Homo sapiens: one gene and its partners. The protein of the gene in region 2 purifies or fractionates together with the protein of the main gene of each other region. This does not show direct contact. Each region holds a gene or a part of one and is shown on either strand. Other genes may lie near its edges.

Evidence for each region.
Region 1: the proteins of NPR2 (region 2) and ALDH3B1 purify together in Homo sapiens (co-immunoprecipitation; one large-scale study listed by IntAct). This does not show direct contact.
Region 3: the proteins of NPR2 (region 2) and MRAP2 purify together in Homo sapiens (co-immunoprecipitation; one large-scale study listed by IntAct). This does not show direct contact.
Region 4: the proteins of NPR2 (region 2) and EDEM2 purify together in Homo sapiens (co-immunoprecipitation; one large-scale study listed by IntAct). This does not show direct contact.

Annotation. Positions count from the first base shown.
Region 1 is NC_000011.10:68,020,327-68,023,826, reverse strand, and holds part of ALDH3B1 (aldehyde dehydrogenase family 3 member B1), read right to left. Parts: intron 2,343-3,500; coding exon 1,956-2,342; intron 1,233-1,955; coding exon 1,066-1,232; intron 1-1,065. UniProt on the Homo sapiens protein: Oxidizes medium and long chain saturated and unsaturated fatty aldehydes generated in the plasma membrane into non-toxic fatty acids. May have a protective role against the cytotoxicity induced by lipid peroxidation.
Region 2 is NC_000009.12:35,805,091-35,808,590, reverse strand, and holds part of NPR2 (atrial natriuretic peptide receptor 2 isoform 1 precursor), read right to left. Parts: intron 3,081-3,500; coding exon 2,921-3,080; intron 2,762-2,920; coding exon 2,606-2,761; intron 2,527-2,605; coding exon 2,358-2,526; intron 2,200-2,357; coding exon 2,053-2,199; intron 1,569-2,052; coding exon 1,445-1,568; intron 1,262-1,444; coding exon 1,193-1,261; intron 807-1,192; exon of another isoform or gene 419-806; coding exon of another isoform or gene 285-418; intron 83-284; coding exon 1-82. Other genes in the region: SPAG8 (sperm-associated antigen 8), read left to right, coding at 285-418. UniProt on the Homo sapiens protein: Receptor for the C-type natriuretic peptide NPPC/CNP hormone. Has guanylate cyclase activity upon binding of its ligand. May play a role in the regulation of skeletal growth.
Region 3 is NC_000006.12:84,057,772-84,061,271, reverse strand, and holds part of MRAP2 (melanocortin-2 receptor accessory protein 2), read right to left. Parts: intron 1-3,500. UniProt on the Homo sapiens protein: Modulator of melanocortin receptor 4 (MC4R), a receptor involved in energy homeostasis. Plays a central role in the control of energy homeostasis and body weight regulation by increasing ligand-sensitivity of MC4R and MC4R-mediated generation of cAMP.
Region 4 is NC_000020.11:35,133,837-35,137,336, forward strand, and holds part of EDEM2 (ER degradation-enhancing alpha-mannosidase-like protein 2 isoform 1 precursor), read right to left. Parts: intron 1,114-3,500; coding exon 902-1,113; intron 1-901. Other genes in the region: MMP24-AS1-EDEM2 (ER degradation-enhancing alpha-mannosidase-like protein 2), read right to left, coding at 902-1,113. UniProt on the Homo sapiens protein: Involved in the endoplasmic reticulum-associated degradation (ERAD) pathway that targets misfolded glycoproteins for degradation in an N-glycan-dependent manner.

The DNA.
Region 1 (3,500 bases), on a different chromosome or scaffold from region 2:
CAAGCAATCCTCCCACCTTGGCCTCCCAAAGTGCTGAGATTACAGGTGTGAGCCACCGCGCCCAGCCCTGCCATCACTTTTTTAGTTTTGACCCATCTAAGCACCATTAAATGGGGGAAATTAGGTGTGGGGTACATGGGAACTCTCTGTACCATTTTGGCAACTTTTCTGTAAATCTAAAAGTATTTCCCAATACAAAGTTTATTTAAAAAAAGTTCAAGTGGCCGGGCACGGTGGCTCATCCCTGTAATCCCAGCACTTTGGGAGGCCGAGGCAGGTGGATCACCTGAGGTCAGCAGTTCAAGACTAGCCTGACCAATGTGGCAAAACCCCATCTCTACTAAAAATACAAAGAATTAGCCGGGCATAGTGGCACACGCCTGTAATCCCAGCTACACAGGAGGTTGAGGCAGGAGAATCGCTTGAACCCGGGAGGCAGAGGTTGCAGTGAGCCAAGACTGTGCTACTGCACTCCAGCCTGGGTGACAGAGTGAGACTCTGTCTCAAAAAAAAAAAAAAAAAAGTTCAAGTGGAGGGAATCGAGGAACTGGCTGAGGGCCGGGGAAGGGGGCGGGGTGGGTAGGGACTGCTGGTACCTCTTGGTGTTTTTTAATCTGAGGACTCTGGCCTTGGGCCTCCCAGGCTGCCTCTGCAGCTTAAGCAGGGGTAGGGGATCAGGGCTCATTCTTGGACCTGCACCTTTGGGTCATCCCCGACACGTTGCCTGTGCCTTCAGAGCCAGGCTTGAGGGGTCATGTGGCCACCAGGCCCCGATGTGTAAGAAGGACAAAGGCAGGGGCTGACCTAGAGGAAACACTGGACCCTAGAGAAGGCCCATACCCCAGGAAGCTGCCCACTGAAGGCCTAGGAGAGTGGGGCCCAGACTGGGGACAGGGTTGGGGTGGGTGAGGCTCAGCTGCTTCCAGGAGAGTGGGCAGAGACAGAGCCAAGAGGTCCACCATCCCAAAGTCCTGAAGCCACTGGATTTTGGTGCCCCCCCTGCTGCCACCACTTGTGCTGCCCACTGCGGGCTCCTGACCCTGCCCAGCCCGGCCGCACCCCCACCTGGCTGCTGTTGGAGAAGGCGTACAGGGCCAGGGGCTTCTCCCGCCGGTTGATGAACTCGATGGCCTCGTCCAAGCTCTGCACGTTCACGATGGGCAGGATGGGCCCGAAGATCTCCTCCTGCATCACAGGCTCCATCTCCTGCACATCCACCAGCACCGTGGGGGCTGCAGGCACCAGAGACAGCTCAGCCCTGGGGCCACAGTCAGGACCGCCCCCAGGGTGGGGGTAGAGGTGGGGACAGGGCCACAGGCCAGGGCTCTAGGCCAGGATCCCAAGGTCTGACTTCCCAAGGCTTCAGGCTTTGGAGTGTTTAGGGAAGAAAGTCTCCCCACAGCCCCCCAGAAGGGACTCTAGAGCTTCCCCAGCCTGCTCAGGGCCTGTGGGACACAGAGAATCCCCCGACCTTGGTCTCACAGTCAGGGGTGATGGGATCTTAGAACCCTTGGAGTTCATGAGGCAACAGCGTCCCAGAATGTTGGCGCCGCAGTGTCCCATGAGCTGCTGAGCCGTACGGCCCAGGAGACTGGGGGCTCAGGACGGGACTCTCGGAGTTTAGAACCTGGGGATTGTGGGCTCGGAGAATCTGAGGTTACAGCCTTTCAGGATAGCCAGTGGTGGGATGGGAGTTCATCTTAGCACGCTGAGCCCTGGAGCCCTGGGATCTGAGCTCAGCGAATCCAAGGTGAGGGACCAGAGTTTGGCCTCATAGGGCCACAGACTTAGAAGCACAGAGACGGAATCATGGCACTGGAGCTGTGGCTCAAGGCCGGGCTCTGGCAGTGGGGCCAGGTTTCAGGCGCGGGTCCAGAGTTGTGGCCCAGCCTTGGGCCCTCCAGTGAGGAGGGGTCTTGGCCCAGGTGGGCTGTGGTAGGGGCAGCAGGACTCACCGATGTAGCGATCGCTCTCATCGCTCTGGCCCCCAATGGCCACACGGCCGCAGCCCAGCAATGCCCGCAGCCGCTGGAACTGTTTCTGGTTGATGATGCGGCCCAGGTTTGGGGAGCTCTGGGGGTCGTCGCCATAGAAACGGGTGATGGTGCTCTGCAGGGCAGGCAGCAGCCTCTCCTGCATCTCAGGGCTGCATAGGACGTAGTCGGGGGCCACGCAGGTCTGGCCGGCGTTGAAGTAGCGGAACCAGGCCACGCGGTTGGCCACGGTCTGGGGGTCGCAGTTGTCGTCCACGTAGCAAGGGTTCTTGCCCCCCAGCTCCAGGGTGACAGGTGTCAGGTGCTTGGCGGCAGCAGTCATAACAATCTTGCCCACACGAGGGCTCCCTGGGCATGGAAGGAAACCAGAGTGGCCGTTCAGTGACCTGGACCAGGCGGGATGGCCCAGCCCACGGCCCCGCTCCTCCCTGGAGAGGTGGTGGAGTCAGCGGGCAGCAGCCCTCGCCTGGCCTTTCCTTGTTCCTCACTGCCACCCTGCAGCCCAGGGCCCTGCTCATCCTTCATCAGGACCAGCCCCTAAGCACAGAGTCTCAGGAGGGAATGGTGCACGGCTGCTATCGGCCCCCAGGGTCCCCCTGCTGAGCCAAACCCCTTGGCTCCTCCCGCCTCTGCTTGTGACCCTGGCTGACCCTGCAGGGGACTCTTTGCAAAATGCTGCATGGAACCCCTCCCCACCCATCTCCTTTGGAAACTTCGGGGATCCCTTATCACCCAAGGATGGAGTCCAGCTCTGTCTACGGCATTCAGGTCTCTCTTCTCTAAACCTAAACCTGGAAGTTCTGCCACCTGCCCAGCCCTTTTTTTCTGACCCTTGAGGTGGACTGTCCCAGGCTGATGCAGGCGTCCCCATGTCCTGCCTGGCTTGGCCTCACCTCTCCTCTGTGCTGGCCTCCAGGGGCCCAGCAGTCTCCGCATGCACACAGCCTTCTCTGCCCTAGCCCTGTCTGGGCCTCAAGGCCTCCTCTCCAGACCTGACTCGGGGACCACGCTGCTGCGTCTGTGGGGATGGCCCTGGCATTTCTCCCCCTTGTGGTCAAGGATTAAAGCCGGCAGGAGCCACTGTGCCTTCTCTACTCTCACCCCTGCCCCATCCTGGCACAGTGCTTCCTGGGCTCTGTGGTTCCTTCCAGGGCTCCTTTGCCTTTGCTGGGAGGCGGCCAGGTCAATCCTGCCAGGCCCTTCCCCACGACTGCCTCGACCTGTAAGGCGCAGACTCGCCTGCCAGCACCACTGTCTTCCTCTCGCTCCCTCTGCCCCTCCCTAGCTCAAAAACTCGAAGCCGGGTGTGGTGGCTCATGCCTGTGATCCCTGCACTTTAGGAGACCAAGGCAGGAGGACTGGTTGAGGCCAAGAGTTCGAGACCAGCCTGAGCAACAGAGTGAGACCCTGTCTTTACTAAAAATACAAAAAATTAGCCGGGCGTGGTGGTACATGCCTGTCACCCCAGCTACTTGGGAAGCTGAGGCATGAGCATCACTTGAACCC
Region 2 (3,500 bases):
GAGCAATTTCTGGTGCATGGCGTTGACCATTTCGGCCTGGGAGGCCAGATACCACCATGTAAGCATCCCCAATCGTCTCCACCTGATTGAGAGGGGGATTAAAAGGTCACCTCTATTTATATCCATGGGGATGGGAAAAAGTAGAGGGAGACAAGCTTGACACCATCATTAATCATCCTGACATGCTGGAGACCAGAATATTGACTAGAAAATAAGTGCCATGGTCCTGAGTCTAGGGGAGAGGAGATGTCTAGGGAATCTTTAAGTCTTCTTTCTCCACCCAGCACCTGGTGAATACTCAGTAAACATTTGCGGAATGAATGAACACCCTGTCTGCAGCAGGACATGGACAAATAGGCTCTGCCATCAGGAAATGGGAAGCAAGAAAACGGTAACTCAAGAGGACAGAGGCTGGTGAGGAGGTAAAGCAGGCCCAGTGAAATGGACCTGACAGCCCAAACTGTCAGAGAGGAGGAAAGCAGGCATTTGATTTTGGTAATTGTGCCAAAGCTATGTAAGAGAATAAATGCCATTGTTTTAAGGAAATACACAGTGAAGTTTTTAGGAAATACACACTAAGTATTTAGGGATAAAGTAGTTATCCCTAAATAGTAGTCTGCCACATGCCAAACAATGTTAGGTACTTTCCATACAACGAATCTATTATTCCCATCTTACAGATAAAACAACTGAGGCTCAGGGAGATTCTGTGACTTACCTAAGGCCACACAGTTAGCAACAAGCCAATATTCAAATCCAGATGATTTTTACTCCCAAGGACAATAAATCCAACTCAATAACTTCAACAAAAAGTTTTACTTTTTAAAATATATTTTCCCTCACCCCACTAAATCAGTCTGGACCCACATCCTATATGATTCTTCCATGTCTGGAGAGGACTGGAGAGAAATGTTGGATAGGCTGTATTTATACTCCAGGAAGATAGGAGCTAAATCTCATGATGGTTCTGATTAGGGAAGTCAAAGGATTCACAAGAAATTCGACTGGAGTGTACAATTATAGTGCTGGAGCTACATCTGTCTACGAAGTACACTCCAGCACCAGGATGCTGAGTACCCTGGAGGGAAAACTGATCATGGGGTGGGTAAGGTGTGTGGGGTTCAGGGAGACTGAGTTTCAAAGCGGGTCTCTATTAAAGGGTCTTCTATTGAACAGCGGCCCCAGCTCTCACCTTGTAGACATCAAAGTTGTCAATTATGGCATCAAAGCAGGTATACAGGTCATTAAGAAGTGTCACTACCTAAAAGGGATAGAAAAGCAGAGGCCCTGAGACTTGTGCCCAATTTTCTAAGAATTCTTAACCCACAAGCCATCAAAAGATGTGGGAACTCTAGAACAAACTCATCTTTCCTATTATCAATGAGGCTTCCCCAGGTCCCTACCCACCCAACCCCACCCGCCACCTCTCACCCATGGCTCTCACCTGCATGGGGGTGCTCTCTGCTGACAATGCTGTGAAGCCAACAATGTCACTGAAGTAGATGGTAACACTGTCAAAGGCCTCAGCCTGTACAGTCTCTCCCCGTTTTAACTGCTCTGCCACTGAACTAGGAAGCAAGGGTGCCGTATGAGCCAAACTCCAAGAGAGCAGGAGTGGAAGAGAGAGGGAAAGTGTATGTGGCTGCAGCAGAGATGAGCTGTAACAAGAAAGCTAGGCTTTTCAGGTGGGAGGGAGGAAAGTGGCTGGGAAGACATTACAGTCTAATGCAAGGTAAGGCACACAAGTGGCGGGGGGGTTTGAGGGGAATCCCTGTGCATGGGAGCTGTCTCAAGTTGGGACTGTTTTACATACACTTGCTGAAGCAAGGGTGTGGTAGAGCAGGGTCTTAAGAAGAAGGGATGGGCAGCCAGTAAGAAGGCAGCATAGCTGATGTGGAGACAGAATGACAGCAAATAATCTATAAGCAGGGGTGCTCCCTGTGGCCAGCAGGGTTCTGAGGGTGGGGAGGCGAGTTCTCAGGTGCCTGATGAGGCAGAGCCCAACAGAGCAGAATCCCAAAAGAAAATACAGGAAGGGGGACAAAGTCTCACTGGGGTAGGATTTGGTAGAGCAGAGCTTCAGCCTTGCGTTTTTCCTCCAGATAGGCCTGTGTGCGTTCCTCCACCAGCTTCTCCAAGTTATTGGCATACTGTTCCATGCGCAGCAGGAGGTTGTCCAATATGCTGGTGCCACCCTCCCTAGAGGGAGGCCAGGATAAGGCACTTGCTCTAAGATTCTGAAGATTCCCAGGACTTCCTATCCAACCCACCCTCTGGTCCCACCTGCCCCACTTCATGCACTAGGACTAATGAGTCTTCTATCCCTGGGAAGCCCCTGCCCCATAATGCCCTCTCACTTGTTAAAGCGCCGAATGAAGCCCTTAATCTGTCCAAAGTCTGGCCGCTCAGCTGGGTCCTGAGCCCAACATCGCTCCATCAGCAAAACTAGCTCTTCATTCAGTTGGGTCCGGTCAATGCTTGGCCGGAAATATGGCCGCTGACCATTTCGTACCTTCTGGACAATCTCTGAGGGTGATCAAAGGTTTGGATGAAGAACAGAGTTCCCCCAGGAAGAAGAGGCTGTGGGTAGTGGATTGACTCTTACCTTTGGGGCTGAGGTCCAGGCCCTCCAAGTAGAAAGGACCACTGCGAAGTGCTATCTCCTGCAGGATGATCCCAAAGCTATAGACGTCAGCCTTCTGCATGCCTGTGGTTGGCAAGGGGTTCCCACTGAGCAGTTCTGGGGCAGTCCACAGCTTCTCTGAAAAGAGGAAACCGGCTGGCCAGGTCCCCCGAAATGGGGCACCCCCAAGCCCACCTGGGCTCATCCCTATATTACTGTCACTCCACCTCCCTCTCCCACCATCCCTAGGTGGAAAGAGGAGCAATATAAAAAGTGGGTTGTGGGGGTGGGCCTCACTGGCATAGAGGGCATGGCTGTCATCAGGTTCAGCAGTTGATCGGAAGCTGGCCAGGCCATAGTCTGTGATTTTGAGCACAAAACGACTATCCACCACACAGTTGGAGGACTTGAGACTCCCATGCGATGAAATAATGCTGTTGTGGAGAAAGGCCATGCCCTGCAGGGTACAGATCAAGTCATGGGATTGGATCATATCTGGCTTAGAATACCCTCTCTCCATGAGATGGGCACTGGCTAGCTGTCTACAGATCTTGGGTCCACAAAAATAATAAGCTGATTTTGGAAGGCATCCTTTGCAGTTTCCACCCAAGGAAGCAGGAAGAACAGAAGAGTCATCTGTTCCTGGTATCATAAGCAGGACACAGGCACCCAGCCACCAGGGACAGGGAAAATGCTTAAAAAGAGGGATAAGTGGAGCTACAAATGACTACCCTGGAGAGGGCAGTCAATCTTCTTGATTAGTGAAGAGAACAGAACTTGGGTGAAGACCAAAATGATATAACACCCATGGTGGCCTCAGATACCTGGCTACTAATTAGGAAGACATGACTTGAGACCCAGGTATCAAGAGTAGCTG
Region 3 (3,500 bases), on a different chromosome or scaffold from region 2:
ATTAGAGCTTAAATATTAAATGTGTTTAAATGCAAAGCTTTATTCTAATTAAATTATGTATATGTAGCACTTTTTCCAAAGTGAAGAAATCAGATTAACAATTTACTCTGCATAATTCATACTTTCATCCTACATATACTATTGCCTAGAGGTTAACAATGTGTATTCAGCACTCTGAAAAACTAATGTGTCTAACCTTAAGTGCCAAAGAAATAGAAATTGTATACTTTGCCTTTTAATATAGTAGAAATGAGGCATAAAAAAAGACATAAGGGCCAGGCGCAGTGGCTCACGCCTGTAATCCCAGCACTTTGGGAGGCCGAGGCGGGCAGATCACGAGGTCAGGAGATCAAAACCATCCTGGCTAAGACAGTGAAACCCCGTCTCTACTAAAAATACAAAAAAAAAAAAAAAAAAAATTAGCCGGGTGTGGTGGCAGGCGCCTGTAGTCCCAGCTACTCGGGAGGCTGAGGCAGGAGAATGGCGTGAACCCGGCAGGTGGAGCTTGCAGTGAGCCAAGATCGCGCCACAGCACTGCAGCCTGGGTGACAGAGCAAGACTCCGTCTCAAAAAAAAAAAAAGATGTAAGGACAAATACCAAACACCACATGTACTGAGGTACAACTAACATGAAACAATTAAATCTCAACTATCTAGGCATGGACTGTGAAGAAACATTGTACAGATAAATAACAGTTCCCTACACTGTACTTTATCAACTGCCTGCATAGCAAAAGCAAATTCTAAAATTATACACCAATGCTATATTTAAGTCTTCGGTTTAGAATTGAATCATGTTGATTGACATTTTTCAAATCTGTGTATTAGGAAGGTGTTCTCCTAAGGACAGCTTTCACACTGCAAATGGTGGACTGACTCCCAGAGGTGGAGGAAAGCGTGCCCTCAACCCAGCCCAGTCCCCCTTCCCTCTGCCCTTCTAAGTACCCCCAGGGAGATAATCAAAAAGCAGCAATAATGTGAAGCATGGGAGGGTTACAGCCTTCAGAGAAGGCAGGTGGCGGCAGAGTTGGGGAGAGGCAGGCTGTGGGTAAAATCTGAGAATCCTCATGATCCAACAGCATTTCCAAACATTTCCTTAATAATGCGGCATCTATGTTTTTCATGGCAATATGCTTTAAGTAGCTCTGCTTATTCACATTTCCCTTTGAACAAAATTTAGCTTCCTCAAGTTATTTCCACTAATTTCCCCCAACCTCATCTTCTGCCCTATGACCCATCCCCAGGGGATTTTCTCACCCTGAGCCTCTTACAAGAAACATCAGAGATCCCCATCTCATCCCAGAAATATCCAAACTCTCCTGAAGTTTTATTCACATGTAAGTTTCATGGGCATAGGCACTACAGTAAGATGGGAAAAGTGGAGCCCGTTGTCTTCCCAAAAGCATCCTTTTCTGGGAAGAAGTCAGAATAAAGCTTTATACAGAGCAAAGCTCCAATGAGGCTAGATGGTTAAGAAAGTCAAAAGAAGCCTTCCAAACGAGTTTCCACCACCGCCAAGCTACCACACTCTGTCCTGTCTAGACACTGAGCTACTTAGAGACTACTATTGTAAAGGGGTAGAACAATTGCCCAGGGGAATTGCAAATGGAATGCGTCAGAATAAAGTAACCCCCCTTAACCTAACCTTTAATGAATGGAATGGAACAAGAGAGCTGAAAGTTGACATGATTTTTTTCCTTCCCAATCTAGGGTAGGACTAGGTTAACTACTCCATCCGACTCACCCTCCTCTCCACCTCCTGAGAATAAATGGTGAACTTTCCACTTCGTGGTTATATGAAAAACAAGGGTTAATACTTCACTTGAAAGAGAGGTTCATGACACTTTCCTCACACCACTTTTTGTTCCTAAGGCAGTAGGGCCAATTCTGTGATATGAATTCCTGGCAAAGAGCCAACAGTGATGTTCCCACACTTGTCTCTACTATCTTACTCCAAGCCTTTGCAAACTCTAGCTGTTTCTCATCCTAATGACCTGGCTTCTTGCTGACCCATCCATGCATGGGTCTGGTATCTGCAAGGTGGCACACGAAAAAGCATGAATTTGGCCACCACTGATAGCTCAAATTAAGAGGCTATTCCTTTAGTCTTTTCTCAACACAGCGGCCAGAGTGGTCCTGCTAAAATGTGATTGTCCACTCATTGACTCATCAGCTTTTGCTTCTGATGCTTTAAGAACACCCTGTCTCACCCAGCCACACTCTTCATAAATGACCCATTCCTCTCCTTCCCTTTATAGTGAGACACTTGAGAGATTTGTCTGTACATGCTGTCCCCAATTCCTCTCCTCTCATTTTTTCTTGAACCAATTCCATCAACCTTTTACCCCCAGCATTCCACTAAAACTGCTTTTCAAATCATTGCCAGTAACTTCTACATTATAAATCCAATGGTCAAATCTCAGTCTTCAATTAACTTGACCTAATAGCAGCATTTGACACAGACTGTCTTTGCAACCCTTTTTTCAGTTGGCGTCCAAAAAACCACAATTGTCCAGTTTTCTTCCTACTTTCTGTACATTCCTCTCAGGCACCTATGCTGCTATGCAACCCTCCAACTTCTAAACACAAGCGTGCCCAGGGCTCAGCATTGGACTCTTCAGTTTTCTGTCTACACTCACTTATCCAGCCTCTTGGCTTTGAACGCATACCGTTTACATGCTGATGACTCTCAAGTCTACGGCTTCCCCCGACACCTCTCCTCCCTTGTCCTCCTGGATATGTGATAGATGTCTCAATTTAACAGGTCCAAAACAGAGCTCCTGGGGTTCCTCTCTGAAACCTCCTTCTCCCATACTCTTCCCCCTCTCAGTTAAAGGCAATTCCATCCTGCCAGTTACTCAGGTCATAAATCTTCAAATCATTCTTGACTCTTCTTTCTCTTACACATACCGCCAATCCATTGACAAATCTTGCCAGATCCATCTTTTAAAAATATCCAGAATGTATGCATTTCTCACCACTTCACTCTCCCTACCTGGCTCCAAGCCACCATCATCAGCTGCCTGGACTATGGCAAAAGCCTCCTGAATGGTCTCTGCTTCTAATCTCATGCCTTTCACTCCGCAGTTGCAGAGTGATCTGTTGAAACCTAAGCCAGATGGCACTCCTCTGCTCCAGACCCTCCAGTGACTTCTCAGAGTAAAAGGCCAAACAAAGTCCTTAGCATGACCTCTAAGGCCCCCCCATGTCCTTGTCCCCACAGCCTCTTTGACTTCGTTTCCTGCTGTTCTGCCTCTTATCACTCCCCTGGTACCACGCTGGCCTCCTTGCATGATCCAGTTCACTCCCGCCAAGGATCCTTTTCTGGGATGTTCTTCCCCCAGATATATTATAGCTCAATCTCTCACTTCCTTCAGGTCTTTTATCAAATCTCTCCTTCTCAGTAAGGCTTTCGATGGCAATTCTATACTGTCGCCTCCACACTCCACATCCCTTTACCCCCACTCTATTTATCCTTTTATATTGCCATCTGACATTAT
Region 4 (3,500 bases), on a different chromosome or scaffold from region 2:
CACCAGACTGCATAAAATGTGCCTAGACCTAAATGCAGTCTTCCTAAGTCAGAGTGACTCAGCAAAGTTGGTATTAATATATTAACGTTACTGCTGAAGTAACTGAGGACCAGAGAGGTTGAGTGACTTGCTCAGGGTCACACAGTTTCGATGTAGCAAGGCCAGGGCTTGAATCCAGTTCTGACTAAATCCAGTGTTATGTCCTGGATGGCTTTGGCTCAATTACTGTTAATCTTATTGATTATCCCATTTAGAAGCTGAAACTGACCTTAGAGATCATCTGGTCCAAAGTGTGTTCAATTTCCATGGGTTAATAGTACTGGAAGATAAAGGGAAGCTCTGGTGTTAAATAAGTTTGGGAAATGTTAAATTAAACAAAGTTGAATAGATTTCTTTACTAGAGGATTTTTATTCTGCTCATGTGCATTCTGACTCTCCAAAAAAGGGGGGGATATTATATCTAATATTCCCCTAACTTAATTGGCCAAGACTCATTTTTTCATGCAACTGCCACTCAGTATCTCTCAGAACCGGTGTCCTAAGAAACACAGCAAATACAGATAGACGCTAAAAATGAAGGCCGGACGAGCTGATGATCTGAAGCCGTCAAGTGAGTCAGGGGCATGAAACATACGACCCTCTTCCTAGAAATCAGAGAATCTCAACTGGTCAAAGCTGAATGCAGCCCCTGCTGCCTGCCAGAAACGTGCTTTCCCACTCTCCTCCCCACTCCAAGCCAAACTTGAATTGGAGGCTTGGTCTATTTTTGGTGTCCTGAGCCCAAATCCTGGACCACTCCCAAGGTCACCCTAAGTTTTCCTTGGCTTGACTGCAACTTATTGCTCAGAGCCCTGGGCCTCGTAAGCAGGGACTCAAACAGGAAGGGCAGCAGCGAACCTACCAGCCCGATATCTGACCGGCTCTCCCAGAGGCGCATCAAAGCCACTCTGGCCACATCTTCGAACACCGGGTCACCAGTGAGGCTGCTCAGGGTGGCAAATTCAACAATGAAGGTCCCAATCCCTGCCGTACAGGTGACAGGGGTCTCTCCTGGGTTCACGCCATGAAGTAAGTTCACTGTTCCATATGGCATGCCAGTGGGGGTCTGAAAGGCTGAACAATCGACAAATTATGATCCCGGACAGGAGCAGGGGGATAGGGATAGTTCTGATACACGCCCAAAGCCTGGGACCTTAGCCAGCACTTCCCTCTTTCTCCTGGGTATCCTGCTAGAGTCTGAGCCAGAGAAAGATAAATGTCATAACTGGAGGGCCCTGAGCAGCCACCCAGCCCAGATGCTGTCAAACACTGCTCTGCATAACCTTGGGTTCCTGCTCATCATGAGGGGGCAGGGAGCAGGCTGTGCTCCACACACACTCGCTTTAGCTAGAGAGCTTTACCTATTTTTATTTATTTTACACTACGCCTTCAAAGCCCAGGCAGGTAACTTATTGTGATGCAGGCAGGGTTTAAGCCACAGAAAGTGGTGGGGCTTGTGGCACAATGACAAGAGTAAGCCCCGTTCAAAGCCATTCATAGACTTTTGGCTCACGCCTATAATCCCAGCACTCTGGGTGGCCAAGGCAGGCAGATCACTTGAGGCCAGGAGTTCGAGACCAGCCTGGCCAACATGGTGAAACCCTATTTCTACTAAAAATACAAAAATTAGGCAAGCGTGGTGGTGCACGCCTGTAATTCTGGCTATCTGGGAGACTGAGGCACGAGAATCGTTTGAACCCAAGAGGCGTGGGCTGCAGTGAGCTGAGATTGCACCACTGCACTCCAGCCTGGGTGACAGAGCGAGACCCTGTCTCAAAATAATAATAATAATAAACAAAGCCATTCATAGACTTTAAATAAAGATCTCTGCTTTAAATAAAGAGTATAGGGGCTAAATTATTTTTAAAGGGAAGCAAAATAGGATATAAACCACTAAACCACGGATATAGTATGACCCTCGATTTATAGGTAGGGAAAACCATGCCTGTAAAGAAGTAATTCAGCCACAGGTCACACAGAGAGAGTCAAACAGAGCTGGGATGGGAACGCCTCCCCTGTGCCCACCCCAGCCCCAGTCCAGTTCTCTGCCCGCCCCACCCAAGTGGCACCCAAGTGCCTTCTGGTTCAAGACGAGAACTGGACAACCAGCCAGAGGCAGAGATTTCCTCTCTGGGCCTAAAGGTCAAACAACTCCAGAGCAGCCTATGCGTCACCAAACTGTGAACAAAGGTGTCGACACTTCCAAGAACCACAGGGTCTAGCAACTGTGTCTGCCACAGACAAGAAACTTGCAATCTGGCAGGCACCAGCGGGAGAGCAAGTCACAACCAGGAAGGGCTCTAAGCAATATTTCAGAAAAAGTCAGGCTGTAATAAAAAGAAGAGGAGTGACAAAATCCTGTTTCTTGACCTTTTTTTATAAAATGACCAATGACCAAAAATAATTAAATTATAAAGGAGGAGCAGCTAGGCAGAGTTTCCAGAGTTTCCTCCAGGGATGAATCACACAGGACACAATGTCTGCAAGGAGACGCTCAAGCCATGAGCCATGAGCCATGAGTGAGACCTGAACCTAGCTCACCCGCTATCCTCAGCTCTCCCCCAAAGGAGAGGCAAGTGCTATGTGAGAAGGATAAAGAGGCCGGGTGTGGTGGCTCACGCCTGTAATCCCAACACTTTGGGAGTCCAAGGCAGATGGATCACTTGATCCCGGGAGTTCAAGACCAGCCTGGGCAACATGGTGAAACCCCATCTCTACAAAAAAAAATTTAGCCATGCATGGTGGCATCTGCCTGTAATCCCAGCTACTCAGGAGGCTGAGGTGGGAGAATCAACTGAGCCCAGAAGTTCGAGAGGCTGCAGTGAGCCATGATCACGCCACTGCACTCCAGCCTGGGCGACAGAGCAAGACCCTGTCTGAAAAAAAAAAAAAAAAAAAAATTAAGAAAGAAAAGGGATAAATAAGTGAGATGGCCAAGAGGTGATGGAAAGCACAGTGTGACGTGTCTGGGTGTGAACAGTCCTCAGAGCCTCCACCACACCCTGAAGGGAACACAGTGTACAGTTGATGCTACTGAGCCTGGTGTTACTGCCCCACTAGACAAAAACATGGAGGCTTGACCTGCAGCCCTGGACACAGCTTAGCCACAAAACAAATCCCTCTCGTTTTAAAAGTGTTGGACGTTCTCTAAGCAGTTTCTCCTTCCTGACCTCATTTTAGCCTCTCCAAAACCCGATGTGGTAGGGAAGTAGAAATTATGATTCTCATTTGATAGATGGGGAAACCAAACTGTGGAGAGAGGCCAGACACAGTGGCTCATGCCTGTAATCCCAGCACTTTGGGAGGCCGAGGCAGCCAGATCACTTGAGGTCAAGAGTTTGAGACCAGCCTGATCAACGTGGCGAAACTTCATCTCTACTAAAAAATACAAAAATTAGCTGGGCATGGTGGCAGGCGCCTGTAATCCCAGCTACTCAAGAGGCTGAAGCAAAAGAATTGCT